Regions from separate parts of the Homo sapiens genome. Here region 2 is linked to region 1. A link means that fine-mapping ties the variant in region 1 to the expression of a gene that starts in the linked region. Tissue or cell type: whole blood. Region 1 holds a variant in brackets; the other region holds the start of a gene. All regions are shown on one strand. Distances are from middle to middle.

Region 1 (7,188 bases):
ACATGGCCTCTAGTAGCAGAGAATAGCTTGCAAACCCTGAATACTTAAAACAGTTGGTCATTCTCACTGAGGTCACTAGAAGTTCTTCTGCTTTAGACTCATAAATGCTTCTGGCATCTTATTTTTTTTTCCTTTTTAAAAATTTTTATTTTATAAATAGGGACAGTTACTACAAAGCTGCCAAATTCTTCCCTATCCTATGCATCTCTTCCTTCCATTCCTACTGCTCTACCCTGCCTCAGGCCCCACTGCCTCAGGCCTGGCTGAATCTGAGGAGGTCCTCTGGGGTCTTCCTGCTTCTCATCTCAATAGTCAGAGCTGATGTTCCGACCCCATTCCAAATACTTGGCCTGATATTGGAGGCCCCACCCTCTCAGTCTTATTTCCTACCATTCTCCTCCATGGACGGCCTGATGCTCCACCCAAATAGGAAAGTGGGACAATTAACATTCTCTAGGCCTGGGGAGGTGGCTCACACCTGTAATCCCAGTACTTTGGGAGGCCGAGGTGGGCGGATAGCCTGAGGTCAGGAATTCGAGACCAGCCTGGCCAACATGGTGAAACCCCATCTCTACTAAAAACACAAAAATTAGCTGGGCATGGTGGCACACACCTGTAGTCCCAGCTACTTGGGAGGCTGAGGCAGGAGAATCGCTTGAACCCGGGAGGCAGAAGTTGCAGTGAGCCGAGATCATACCACGGCACTCCTGCCTGGGCAACAGAATGAGAGACTCCGTCTCAAAACAAAACACAAAAAACCAATACACACAAAAAAAATTCCCCATATATGCCCCCAGCTTTCCCTGCACTGTGGCTCTGTGCTCACGCTTCTCCTTCACTACGCTGCTGGTGCCCTGCCACAGCACAGAAACCCCATTGCCCATTCACATCAGCCTCACTGTCCTTGGGAAGAGTTGGCCTGGGCAGCTTAATTTCTCCCTCCTCTGAACATTTAGCCTTCTGCATACAAAACACCCACTATGATTCTCTCCTCATCCTGGTTTACAAAGAGTGATTTTCCTCTCTATCAGTTGTTTCAGAAAAATTATCAAAATAAAAATGTTCACAAAAGTCAAATACTAAAGTACAGGAACTCCAGGGCCCGCACTCTTGACCATCATGCTCTCCAGCTTCTCAACATACACACTTCCAAATGGCAAATTCCTTAACAGAAAAAAAGCAGGGACAAAGACATTTCCTTCTCTTCTCCACATCACTTGGCATATCTATTTTATCAAAAACTTTGTATTGAATGTATGAATGAATAAAACTCTCCACCCTATATCATGTCAACAGGCTTTTACTCTTCTTATCAGAAAGTGCCTCCAGTTACACCACGGCCATTTTCTTTGAATTTATAAAATACGACATGTATTTAACTGGCGCGAATGCCAACAGATCACAGTAAAGACACTACCAAAAAAACTCCTACCCTAGATATCTCTTGTCACATATAAGAGGACCTTAAACATCCTCTCATGCATTTAAGAAGGTATCAAGTGTGGCACCTGCAGTATTAGGTCAGCACGTGTATCCTGGAGTGTGGGTTCAAACCCTGACTCCACCAATAACTTCTGGTGTGACTTTTGGAAAATTACTAATCTCTCTGAGCCTTGACCTTGGCTCACAGAGATTAGTAATTTATAAAGTTCACACTAACAATAACACTAATCTCATTGGCCTTTTCTGAAAATGCAAATGAAACAATCTTTGGAAAGTGTTTAATACAGTATCTGACATAAACCAAAAACTCAATAAATCTTAGCTATTATCATTGAGTTTAGGCAGGGTTCTGTGAAACGTGGCCTCTAGTAGCAAAGTAAGAATAGCTTGCAAGCCTTGAATACTTAAAATAGTTGGTCATTCTCACTGTGGTCACTAGAAGTTGCTTCTGCTTTGGACTCATAAATGCTTCTGGCACCTTTTTTTTTTTTTTTTTTTTTTTTGGGACAGGGTCCCGCTCTGTCGCCCAGGCTGGAGTGCAGTGGTGCAATCTCGGCTCACTGCAAGCTCCACCTCCCAGGTTCATGCCATTCTCCTGCCTCAGCCTCCTGAGTAGCTGGGACTACAGGCGCCCACCACCATGCCTGGCTAATTTTTTGTACTTTTTAGGAGAGACAGGGTTTCACCATGTTAGCCAGGATGGTCTCCATCTCCTGACCTCGTGATCCACCTGCCTCAGCCTCCCAAAGTGCTGGGGTTACGGGTGGGAGATACCGTGCCTGGCACTTCTGGTATCTTTTTTTTTTTTTTTCCTTTTTAAAAATTTTTATTTTATAAATAGGGACAGGATCTCACTATGTCACCTAGGCTGATCTCAAACTCCTGCCCTCAAGCAATCCTCCCGCCTTGGCCTCCCAAAGTGCTGAGATTACAGGTGTGAGCCACTGTGACCAGCCTGGTCTCTTAAGCTTCCTGTTTCATGCATTCTATTTAATTGTGGTCATTGCTTATTAGCATTTTTTGGAGACTTAGCTATGTATCATTTTCTGAAAGCTCTTACATACAGACTTGGATTATTTTCATAGAATACTGCCAAAAGGGTGTAGTGAACAGCAATCATGTTGGCTTTTCAATTATGTATTTATTTTTTCATGAAAACTTTTTTTAATTCCAAAAAATGCAACATACTTCAAATCAGTGCTTGGTGCTTTAGTGAAGAGCCATGCCAAATAACACAGTTGGCCTATATGAATTACAATCAAATATGTAATTCTTCTGTTCAATTCAGGTTGAAGAAGCCAGTGAAACTTTACCGCTTTTGATATTTGCATTCAGCATATAGGAGTCTAGAATAAGATACTTCCAGATTTGGGGGGTTGTATTTTTTAGGATGAAATGAGCATAAATGGATGGGTTAACCATTTGCAGAATGCTACTATATAAAGATGTTTACAAATTTTCATTATAAAGGCTTAACAATATGCCCAATGCACTTAAGATAATGACCATCTAGGCTCAGGATTGAAAAATAACTGAAGAGCTGTAACCCAATAAACTTGTGTGAACAAAATATTTGTTACTGGCTGGCATGGTGGCTCACGCCTGTAATCCCAGCACTTTGGGAGGCTGAGGTGAGTGGATCATAAGGTCAGGAGATCGAGACTATCCTGGCTAAAATGGTGAAACCCTGTCTCTACTAAAAATACAAAAACTTAGCCGGGCGTGGTGGTGGGTGCCTGTAGTCTCAGATACTCGGGAGGCTGAGGCATGAGAATGGCACGAACCCAGGAGGTGGAGCTTGCAGTGAGCCAAGATCGTGCCACTGCACTCCAGCCTGGGCAACAGAGCCAGAGTCTGTGTCAAAAAAAAAAAAAAAAAAATTTGTTACTGGGTGAGTGTCTTCATAGAGGTGAAGTAAAAGAGATTTTCCTCTGTCCAAGGAAGAGCGTTCTGTGATCAGCTGGTGAAAGTATTCTGCTCTACCTGGGAGGCATATTTTTATACCAGAACTGTCACAGTTCAATGACATGTCACATTCAAGGTTAGCCAGGATTCTGAGCTCTGACTCTGCCCATTGGGCCTCCCACACAAACTGTCTCACAGCAGAAGGGATACAGTGACCAGCTATCATAGAATTCTGGTCCTGCTGCTACACTGCTCCAGCCAAAAGTTTATAAACTGCCTTCTGGCTTAAGCGTCAGCCTCTTTTGACATCAGTTAAAGAAAATCAGTCACTAAGTCGAGCCAACTCAAATTAGTTTACAATCAAAAATCAATTTTCTACTGGAAAAGTGGTGGAAACAGCCTAAGAGTCAATGTCACAAAGAGTAGGTGTGAATCCTAGTTCTGCCACTCACTAGCCTTGACTAAACTACTTCACTTCTGTGCCTTACCATCCATGCTTTCATCTTCCATACGTGGGTATAACAGCGACTCCCCCTCATTTACGTTGTGAAGATAAAAACTTACATCAGATAAGGCACTTAATAAATTACAGCTCTGCAGTGACCCACTTCCACCTGAAACCCCTGAAACACTGCATGGGCAGTGGGTAATCGTCCCTCTCTGACATAGTTTTGAAAACTGTTTTTCTTATTTAAAAGTAATACATTCTCGCTGCAGAAAAATTGCAAAGCAAAAAAAAAAGTACAAAGAATTGGGGAAAAAGAGGTTTTTTTGGGCATATTTCTAACATTCTGGCATATTTCATTTCAGCTGTTTTGCTATGTTTATTTTATGACATATTTTTAGAATATTTACAAAATTTTTAAAAAGTGTAAAGAAGAAAAGCAAATACCATCAACTCTACTACCCAGAGCCAATCAATTCTATTATATTGGCATATTTCCCTCCAATGTTTAGCCTAGGCATTTAAAAAATGTAACTGACTGATCATGGCCAGGCTGGAATCCTCTTTTTCAGATTAATGTGATACATTTCTATGACTCACATTTCTCTTTTAATGAAACATTACTTACTGTTTTTACCATCTTTAAGAGTCATGTTTCTGGTATACGAGATATTCAGTCTTCTTCCACTGCTAGACGAAAATGGAGAGAATTGATCTAGAAAAAATTTAAAATTCAGTAACAAACTTATGAGTATCAAGCCTATGAAATTTACACCTTACAAAAGAAAACATAAAATGCAAGTGCTGGCCGGGCACAGTGGCTCATGCCTGTAATCCCAGCACTTTGGGAGGCCAAGGCGGGCGGATCATGAGGTCAGGAGATCGAGACCAT[C/T]CTAGCTAACACGGTGAAACCCCGTCTCTACTAAAAATACAAAAAAATTAGCTGGGCATGGTGACGGGCGCCTCTAGTCCCAGCTACTCTGGAGGCTGAGGCAGGAGAATGGCGTGAATCCGGGAGGTGGAGCTTGCAGTGAGCCAAGATTGCGCCACTGCACCGGATCCAGCCTGGGCGACAGAGCAAGACTCCGTCTCAAAAAAAAAAAAAAACAAAAAAACACACGTCCTAAACTGGCAGCTCAGATGTGCTTTTTTTGTTCTTCTTGTTAAGTTTAAAGGGCTGGTTTTGTTTACATCTTATGAAATTTCATGTGAAAAATTCTAGCTTCTATTGAAGAATCTGAATATTTGCAATCTAAACTCTAATCCCATAGTGGCATAAACTGTACCACAGTCACCACCTTTTGATGGGGCAAATTCATTCCAGGTCACCAGTCTCTACTATTCACTATTTTTCTTTCACCTGGCCTCTTTTACTCTTTTATGTTTTTATGTTGTTGGCCCAGCCCTTATAGGCCTTTTTTTTTTTTCTTTTTTGAGACGAGTCTCGTTCTGTCGCCCAGGATGGAGTGCAGTGGCATGATCTTGGCTCACTGCAACCTCCACCTCCTGGGTTCAAGTGATTCTCCTGCCTCAGCCTCCAGAGTAGCTGGGATTACAGGTGGGTGCCACCACAGCTGGCTAACTTTTCTATTTTTAGTGGAGATGGGGTTTCACCATGTTGGCCAGGCTGGTCTCAAACTCCTGACCTTAAGTGATCCACCCGCCCTGGGCCTCTCAAAGTGTTGGGATTACAGGCATGAGCCACCGCGCCTGGCCCCTTATAGGCATTTGGGTGTATATCCTCTATTGGACAATATCCAGGAGCTTCAGCATAGCTAAGCTGATGCAATTTATTCTGAACCTCATATCTGTACCAATTATAAACTTTCAAAAGGAAGGTCACAGTAAGACAACGTTCCATTCTAAAAACGTTAAGGTCAGGCTCAGGAATACCACATGGGACGTATTTAGATGCATTTTCATTCAATGTAAAAGGATAAAATGAGGATAGAGCACAAATCTTCTAAAGATGCAGTTTTCGGGACTTAAAACATTTTACATTTTAAGCTTTCCATACAGCTATCTTGAATGAATCTAAATGAATTCAGAAATTAAAGATTCTAATGATAGGATCCTATAATAATACGGGTTCAGTATCACTTACCCAAAATGCTTGGGACCAGAAGTGTTTTGAATTTCAGATTTTTTTTTTTTTTTTTGGATTTTGGATTATTTGCATTATATTTAACTGGCTTAGCATCCCTGATCCAAGTATCTGGAATCTGAACTGTTCCAATGAGCATTTCCTTTGAGCATCATGTTAGTGCTGAAAAAGCTTCCGATTCTGGAGCATTTTGGATTTGGGGATTTGGGATGCTCAAACTGTATAGGGTAATATAATAATTACCAATAAAAGAGAAAAATAGATCAGATTTTTAAAAATTCTGTTTGCTCCGAAAGTCAGAGCTAGCCTGAAATGCAAAAAGTATGTGAGAGCTGAGATTTTGTATCAATTTAAAGGGCAGAACTTTTTTTTTTTAATACTTTAAGTTCTAGGGTACATGTGCACAAGGTGCAGGTTTGTTACATATGTATACATGTGTCATGTTGGTGTGCTGCACCTATTAACTCGTCATTTACATTAGGTATATCTCCTAATGCTATCCCTCCCCCCTCCCCCCACCCCACGACAGGCCCCGGTGTGTGATGTTCCCCACCCTGTGTCCAAGTGATCTCATTGTTCAATTCCCACCTATGAGTGAGAACATGCGGTGTTTGGTTTAAAGGCAGAACTTTCTAATGGAGAACTGACTGAAACTGTAAGCTACCTGATGAGGTAATGAACTTCCAGTTTCCCAAGGTGTTAGGAAGAAGTTGGGCAACAGCTTAGTGGGTGTGCTGGGGTAGGGATGCAATGCATATGTGTGGTAGCCAGGATGAACCCCACTATGGCCCTTCCTATGCTTGGATTCTATGACACTATGAAGTCTCTAGGTAGACATTCAATCACAGGATGGAAAAAGCGGAAGTAATTCGACAATAAGTCATGGGTAACCCTGGGGAATCTAAGTCTCCAGTCTTAGATTGTCTTGAGACTCTGGGACAAAGGGAGTTGCTGCAGGTACAGAGGACAAAACAAAGTAGGGCTATGAGGAGTGGCGAACAAAAGAAGTGATAAGAAATTAGTGTAGGATGTGGGGAGAACAAGTGTTTGACTGAAAAGAGATCCATTTCCTTTTTTTTTTTTTTTTTTTTTAGATGAACTCTCGCCCTGTTGTCCAGGCTGGAGTGCAGTGGCGCGATCTCGGTTCACTGCAACCTCCGCCTCCCGGGTTCAAGCGATTCTCTTGTCTCAGCCTCCCGAGTAGCTGGGACTACAGGTGCGTGCCACCACACCCAGCTTATTTTTTGTATTTTTAGTAGAGACAGGGTTTCACCATGTTAGCCAGGATGGT
Region 2 (8,056 bases), 53 kb before region 1:
TTCAAAACTCTGTACATAGAAGCTGCATGGTAAAGAAAACTGTAATAAGGGTCTTCTGAAAAAACTGCTTTTAAAAATAATTATCTGTAATACTGTCACAGGACACTATGGAACAAAAAAAAACAAGGTATATCGTACCACTCAGAATCCTTCAATGGATTTCCATTTCTCTAGGATAAAAGCCCAGTATCCTTACAGTGTCCACCCATGCCTACCCCCACTCCTTGCCACCTAGGCCTCATCTGCTCCAACGACCCCCTGTATATACACATGTACATATACATACATACACACACACACACACACACACACACACACACACACACACACACTGCTCCAGCCACATTGGTCTCACTGTTCCTCAAGATTTCTACATTTCTGCATGGCTTATTCCCTCATCCCCTACTCTGTTCAAAATTATCTCATTGGTGATACAGATATTTAGCAACCCTACTTCCATCAATGCCCTAGCACCCCCAATCCCCTTCCCTAACACTGCTTTCTCCCACAGCACTTAACACCTTCTAACATAGTAAAGAAGAAAACTATATACTATGTTTATTATTTATGTCTCCCTACTAAAAGGTACCCCTCACCAGAGTGAGGATTTTTGTCTCTTCTGTGATATATACATCCCTTCAGTGCCTAACACTATCTCTAGCACACAGCAGACGTATAATAATCACTGAAAAGAACTGATAACCTCCTTTATTTGTAGACATGCAAAGAATGTGCAACAAGTTATGAAAAGACAACCTTGAATAGACCTACATGTATTTGAATTTACAAATTCTAGTATTTGTTGACAACATAATCTTAAATTTCAAAGTTCATATATATTTAAAGCCATTGAAAACATAGGCATTAACATCATTGATCACCCATTAATATGAATTTTGTTACTTAACATATTCATAAATAACATGGGGTTTCCTGTGTTTAAGTGATGGATATGATTTAATTTCAAATGTAATTTTCTGGATTTCATATGAGTTAACAGATAATACTGGGGGAAATGGTAGACCAGGAGAAAATAGTTTCAGTTCTGCAACCAACAATCCTGCAAACCTGAACCTCAAAACCTCCTTGATATTCAATTTCTTCTTGTGTAAAAATGGGGAGGAGTAATTAGATGATCTCTGAGTCTATTTCAGGTCTAAAAATTCTATGATGCTATGAGTCTAAAAATCATTAGAATCATAAAATGTCTATGCTGGATGAAACTTTAGAAATCATCAAGTCCAATCCTGCCATCTTATAAATAAAACAACCCACACGTTTTGAACACTTTTTTTTTTTTGAGACGGAGTCTCGCTCTCGCCCAGGCTGGAGTGCAATGACGCGATCTCGGCTCACTGCAACCTCCTCCTCTGGGTTCCAGTGATTCTCCCGCCTCAGCCTCCTGAGTAGCTGAGACTACAGGCCCCCACCACCACGCCTGGCTAATTTTTGTATTTTTAGTAGAGACGGGGTTTCACCGTATTGGCCAGGCTGGTCTCAAACTCTTGACCTTGTGATCCGCCCACCTTGGCCTCCCAAAGTGCTGGGATTACAGGCGTGAGCCACTGCACTCAGCCGAACACTTTTTAAAAATATGTTTCAGGCTGGCGTGGTGGCTCACGCCTGTAATCCTAGCACCTTGGGCGGCCGAGGCAGGTGGATCACCTGAAGTCAAGAGTTCGAGACCAGCCAGGTCAACATAGTGAAACCTCGTCTCTACTAAAAATACAAAAATCAGCCGGGTATGTTGGCGGGCACCTATAATCCCAGCTACTTGGGAGGCTTAGGCTGGAGAATCGCTTGAACCCAGGAGGCACGGGTTGCAGTGAGCCAAGATTGCACCACTGCACTCCAGCCTGGGCAACAGAGCAAAAACTCCATCTCAAAAAAAAAAAAACAACAACAACAAAAAACAAGTTCCAAAGTAACAGAATATTATCTAATTTTGGAGTCGTTTTTAGTCTGTGTGTGGGGGGAGGGAGGAAGTTAACAGAACTTTTTTACTTATACAAAGTATTTCAAATATCCCATCATTTAAGTTTGCTCTAGAACTGACAATAACATGTGCTCTGGAAATGGGCTGCAGCTACAGACACCAAAAAACTCACAGCCCCGAAACTGCATAAAGAAACAAATATATGTAAGATAACTTTATAATGAAACAACTTCTTAACTATAAAATTCTTACTGCCTAACTTCGATTAGGGCCAGTGGTGAGTCTCTTTCCTTTCTTATTATTTTTTTTAAGAGACAAGGTCTGTTAGCCAGGCTGGAGTGGTGCAGTGGCAGGGCTCACAGCAGCCTCAACCTCCCAGCTCAAGTAATCCTCCCACCTCATCCTCTGGAGTAGGGGCAACCACAGGCTAGCACCAGCATGCTTGGCTATTTTTTTTCCTTGGGATGGAGTCTCACTACTATGTTGCGCAGGCTGGTCTCAAACTCCTAGGCTCTCAAGCAATCCTCCTGCTTCGGTGACCCAGGGTGCTGGGATTACAGGCATGAGCCACCGTGCCCAGCCCCTACGGTGAGTTAGCTAAACCAGAGAATATCACGACAATTCTCATGACATAAACTGAGTTCAGCCACAGGATATGTTTTAAATTAATATCTTGTCACCACTGGTAGAATTACATGGGTTATGGCTAAGTTTCAAAACTAGCTAATTTTAATATTAACCAAAAGAATAGAAGCTTACAAGCTGAACTCTCCCTACGAACCACTTGATGCCTGAATTCCTGAACAGGTGATGAGTATTTCCGGGACCCCACTGTCTAGGGGATGATGCGGATCTGGAGACCATCCTGAAGAGCACACATTTCAGCTGTGGCTGAGTGTTTCCCAGGGAATTAACGTCATTACTTCGAGCTTACTATACTTATCTAAATGCTAAGAGTCTGGAAACTTCAGGAGTAATGTCTATGACCATCTAAATACTTAAGAAACTAGAAACTGTTTAGACTGCCTGGTGGATCTCTGAACACTGTAATACTAATCTATACATTAACCTGCACTTTAAAGTTTTCTTACCAATTCAAACTGTAAATTCCTACACAACTTGCCACAGAACATAAGTGTTAAATATGTGTCAGACTAAACCATATATCCATACATGACAACAAAATACTGCCAAGCTGGAGGATGGGACTAGAAGTGTCATTCAGCAAAAATAAGACCAACTAAAAACAAAGACACTGGAGCATTCCCTTAACACAGGCGCGCACACACACCCTCCTCAAAGAGGCCTTTATGTTCCCCACGAGCAAAGGACAACAATATCATTTTTACTATTCATACAGTAACCTGCACGGAATTCAACTCACGCTCAGACTGTACAATGCCAAACAGCGCTTCTGAAACGCGAAGAGCGTCCAGCAGAGTCAGGTACTTAATTACCAAAGTAAACAACTCGACCACAAGGGTCTGCAAGCCTGGAGAGGACTTTTTCCCCCCCCCAAACAAAAAAGGAGAGTAACTTGACAAACTGTTTTAAAAAAAATCACAAATGGCCCTTAACTACTATAATAAAGCAATTACTCCTCCCACCCCCAAGCAAATAAAATAGGTGCTCGAAAGGGCGCTCGCTAGTCTGTGTTCCCTAATTTTATGAAATGAGAACAGGTTGCACTTCCGTACCCCCTCCCCCAAGCTCAGCAGTCTCCCATGTTTTCAGTAGAGAGGTAAATATAACCTCCACCAACTGGCCGGGGAAACTCTCCTTCTCCAAAAGCATGGGACGCCTCGAGAGGTGATGGAGAAAGGAAAAGGGCTGATACCCCGCCCCAAGCAAAACTGCCTGGGAGACTTGCGGGGTATTGGAGCCGGGAGCGGAGGAGGGAGAGGCGCGCCGGGAAAGTCTTTCCTTCTCCCCGGCCGGGCGGAGAGGGAAGCCCCGGCTTCGGGGCGGGGGGAGGCTACTCACCCGGAACCCCAGACCCCAGTCCCCGACCAGACACAATGGAGCCGGCAGAGGGGCAGGGGCAAGGCCGTTGCCCCCTCCCCTCCCCCCGCCCCAACGCCTCCCCCACCCGCGCCGGGCCCCGGCAAGGGGCACCGGGGCCGCTCCCCGCGCCCCAAACTCCCCGGGGCTCCCGACTAGGCCCGGCTCCGCTCCGCCTCCTCGGCTCTCGCGTAGCGGCTGCGCCCGGGCGGGAAGGGGCGAAGGAGGAAGGGAGAGGCAGGCAGGAGAGCCCCCGCCTGGGAGCGGGACGGAGGCCGCGGGCCGAGGCTCGGGGCTGCAGGGTCGCCGCGGGACGGAGGGCGGCCGGGGCGGGGGTGCGCGGCAGCGCCGGCCCCCAGCCGGCAGGGCGGGCGGGCGGCCGCAGTGCCTCACCATGTTGGTGTCCTCCAGGCCTCTCCCCTCCTCCTCCGGCTCCGCAGCGAATGGACGGCGGCGGCGGCGGCGGCTCCTCTCACGGGCTTGCCCGGCTCCCGCTCATGCGCAGTGCGGGGCGGCCCGGCGCGGCCCGAGGAGGCAGCCCCGGACCTCGGGGAGGCGGAGGGACGGAGGCAGGCGGAGGGCGCCCCGCGCGGGGCTTCCCCCGGGCGCGGGGGTCCCCCGGGGAGTGGGCGGGGGCGGGGGGCGCGGCGGGGGAGGGGCGGGCGACGCAAGCCCTCCGCGCGCCGACATCCTCCTGCCGCGCCGGGCGGTCTCTGGTGGGGGCGCCGGGGGACACCCCACCTCCGTTTCCTACGCGGTTCCTTCCGGACGACCACGGCCGGGTCTACGCAGGCTGGAAGCGGGCACGAGCGGCGGCGGATAAGTTGAGCAGCTGGGGGCGGCTGAAACGGATGGTTGAGGAGCTTCATCCATCCCAGACCTCCCCTCCCCATCAGTATCAAAAAAAGGGAGAAGATAGTGGAAACACCTCCCCCTGCCCCGTGTTTTCTTCTTTTTCCCCCCAATCTCAGTATCAGACCTACATCAGTTCCCTCGCGTGGGCATCCCAGGGGAGACCTTAGTCCCCCCCCTGCGGTGGCTGTCACTCCATTAGTGAGGACCAGGCTCTCCCCAGACCTGTCTACTGGGAGACAGTTGGGGTAACCCTATAGTGAGATGGGGTGGGGTGCACTGAGACCCAAGGCCGGGCTGCGGGAGTCCAGGTTGCCTGCCTACTGCTAGCTCTCAGTATCCCCTCAGTTCGGCCCGCCCAGGATAAGTTTCGGGAAGCAACTACACATTTTTTCACTGAGGGTCTAGTCACGCAGGGCGGACAGTCCAGGTGTGACCTGCCCTGGGCGTTAAATCAACTGAGGCTGAGGAGCACTAGGATTCTGAGCTGAGGATCAAGTGGACAAATTCGTGCTGCAAGGAGGACAGAAGACTCCTGTGGAGTAAGTGGTCCTTGCCCTTCAGAAATGTAGTATCCAGTTGGAGAGATAAGACACCTTCACACAGGAAGGAAATAAAACAGCTAAGAAAGCAAACTCACTCAGAAAGTCACATCTGAAACTGTACCAAGAGCTTACCTACGTTTCAGAACAGGACCCACCTGAGTAGACCCGTTATCACCATCATCACCAGCACAGGCATTAAACGACCAGATCAACCCTATAACTAATGAATTTGTTCTTACCAAAACAACAGAACTTCTTTGGTAACTCCCAAAGGCCTCCTAACTTCCTGGAGCTAGCCATGTACTGGGAGCGCCCAGCGCTGTACCAAGGCAGGTTTCTGGCGGCCACAAACCGTTCATCCATTCTTTCCCCCAATATTTAAAGAATGCATGTGAATGTGCCAAGCTCCTTGCTGGGCTCTGGGTAAATAGTCCTGCAAGGAGAAGCCAGATCTGCCTCATGCAGCAAGCCTGAAACTGGACTACATCCACGGAGGTTCTCCAGGAATTCACCTAGCTTTTGACCTAAAGTATTAACACCTAGGGCGTTAATGAGGAGGATTCACTGTATCTCTTACTCCAATCTGTTCTACTCCATTGAAATAATCGTTTGTGGGTTTTCCTAAGCTCTACCAAGGTACAGGCCTTAGTTATTCTAATTGACCTCTCGCCTGCGTTTGGACACTTCCTCCTTGAATTTCCTGTTCATTTTCCATGACTCCACCTTCTCCTGCATCTCCTCTTTACTCTGACCACTCTCCTTTGCTGGCTGTACTCAATTTAGGCTTTCCTGACCATTCCTGAACGTCCTTCTGTATACAGCCTGTGTCACGCTGTCACTCACATTCCCACGTCAACTACTGCCCATATCAAGAGGAATCTCAAATCTTGACTTCCAGTCCCCAAGTGACAGGCCTAAACACTCATTCTGGTCATTTCACAGGTCCATCAAGCTCACCAAATCTAAAACTTTATCCCCAAACCCACTTTTCCTCCTGCCTTTTATCAAATCATCCAAACTAGAAATCTAAGAATCATCCACCACTCTTCCTGCCTCATCCCCTTACTCCGCATCTCACCAGTTTTCCCTCCTAAATGACTTTTAAATCTGCACCCTGCCTTCTATTTCTTAGCCAATTCTTTTTGTTGTTGTATTTTTTTGTTTGTTTTTGAGATGGAGTCTAGTTCTGTCACCCAGGCTGGAGTACAATGGCGCAATCTCAGCTCACTGCAACCTCCGCCTCCCAGGTTCAAGCGATTCTCCTGTCTCAGCCCCCACCGAGTAGCTGGGATTACAGATGTGTGCCACCATGCCCAGCTACTTTTTGCATTTTTAATAGAAACAGGGTTTCACCATGTTTGTCAGGCTGGTCTCGAACTCCTGACCTCATGATCTGCCCCACCTCGGTCTCCCAAAGTACTGGGATCACAGGCGTGAGCCACCGCGCCTGGCCAGCCAATTCTTTATCATCTCTCCTCATCAGTAACTTCTTACCTAATCTTCCAGCCTCTACTCCTTCTCCACTGCTCCATAGTTGTCTTTCTATAATGCAAATGTGAATTTGTCCGTAAAATTCTCCAAGAGCTGCATAAGCATGAGCCTCTGGAATGGCATTAAAGTTCTCTCCTCTGATCTATCCATTCCCATTGCCATTTTCCACCACCCTCCACCCAAATGCACCTCATATTTCAGTTTTCACAAACCAAGACTGCCATACCTCTGCATGTTTCCTTGCTTTCTCCAATTCTCCTATCCCTGGCCTCCTAGCTAATACTGACTGAGCCCATGACACATACTAATTTATGTAATCCTCACTGCGACACATACTAACTCATATAACCTCACTTCTACCCTATGAGCATGCCCAGCTATTACGCCCATCCTACAAAGGGGAAAATGGAAGCACAGAGAGATTAAATAATATGCCTAAAATTCCCTAGCTAGGCCAGGCGCAGTGGCTCACGCCTGTAATCCCAGCACTTGGGGATGCCAAGGCGGGCAGATAACTTAAGTTCAGGAGTTCGAGACCAGCCTGGCCAACATGGCGAAATCCCATCTCTACTAAAATTAACCGGGCATGGTTGCGCATGCCTGCAATCCCAGCTAGTCCGGAGGCTGAGGCAGGAGAATCGCTTGAACCCTGGAGGCAGAGGTTGCAGTGAGCTGAGATCGCGCCACTGCACTCCAGCCTGGGCAAGAAGAATGAGATTCCACCTCAAAGAAAAAAAAAAAGAGATTCCCTAGCTAGCAAGTAGCAGAGCTAGGATTTGAAACCTGATAGTCTGGCTATCTGGTTAGTCTATTCTCTTGATTACCACATTATATTTCCCACCAAGATCTCAGTACTCAACTCAAAGACCATCTTCTCTATGATTGTCTCCTGACCTGATCCTTGGATTCCAGCAGTTAGGCAAGTTTCTCCCCACACCTTACATATACTTTTGTTACACTTATGACATTCATATGATAAGCATTTGCCAACATGACCATCTCCCCTGCCAGACTGCACTGCTTAAGGTCAGAGACCTGGTTGCACAATTCTTTGAGTTTTCAGTGTCAAAGTGAGTGCCTGACATATATGTGCTACATAGTCACAGTGGGATAAATTAATGAAAAGAAAGAGATATGTAACTGATGTCTGTCTTAAGACAGTGCCTATATTGTTTGTTATTGTAAAGGAATGCTTGTTCTCCTTGGCAGATGTATGTTATACCATATGGTC

The links. PIP is the estimated chance that this variant, and not a neighbour inherited with it, causes the effect.
Region 2: it holds the start of DCUN1D1, and the variant in region 1 is fine-mapped to the expression of DCUN1D1 in whole blood (TOPMed, PIP above 0.99).

Annotation. Positions count from the first base shown.
Region 1 is chr3:183,029,570-183,036,757 of GRCh38, forward strand. MCCC1 (methylcrotonyl-CoA carboxylase subunit 1) reads right to left here. Exons shown (of 19, transcript NM_020166.5): 14 at 4,422-4,508. LOC124906309 (a long non-coding RNA gene) reads right to left here and starts at 4,415. Exons shown (of 2, transcript XR_007096188.1): 1 at 1,661-4,415; 2 at 1,015-1,602. The variant C/T (reference allele first, on the strand shown) is at 4,686.
Region 2 is chr3:182,976,157-182,984,212 of GRCh38, forward strand. DCUN1D1 (defective in cullin neddylation 1 domain containing 1) reads right to left here and starts at 4,382. Exons shown (of 7, transcript NM_020640.4): 1 at 4,331-4,382. The coding sequence starts at 4,333. It overlaps LOC105374246 (a long non-coding RNA gene), which reads left to right and starts at 4,651. Exons shown (of 2, transcript XR_924771.2): 1 at 4,651-5,331. RefSeq lists silencers at 4,051-4,170, 4,231-4,670.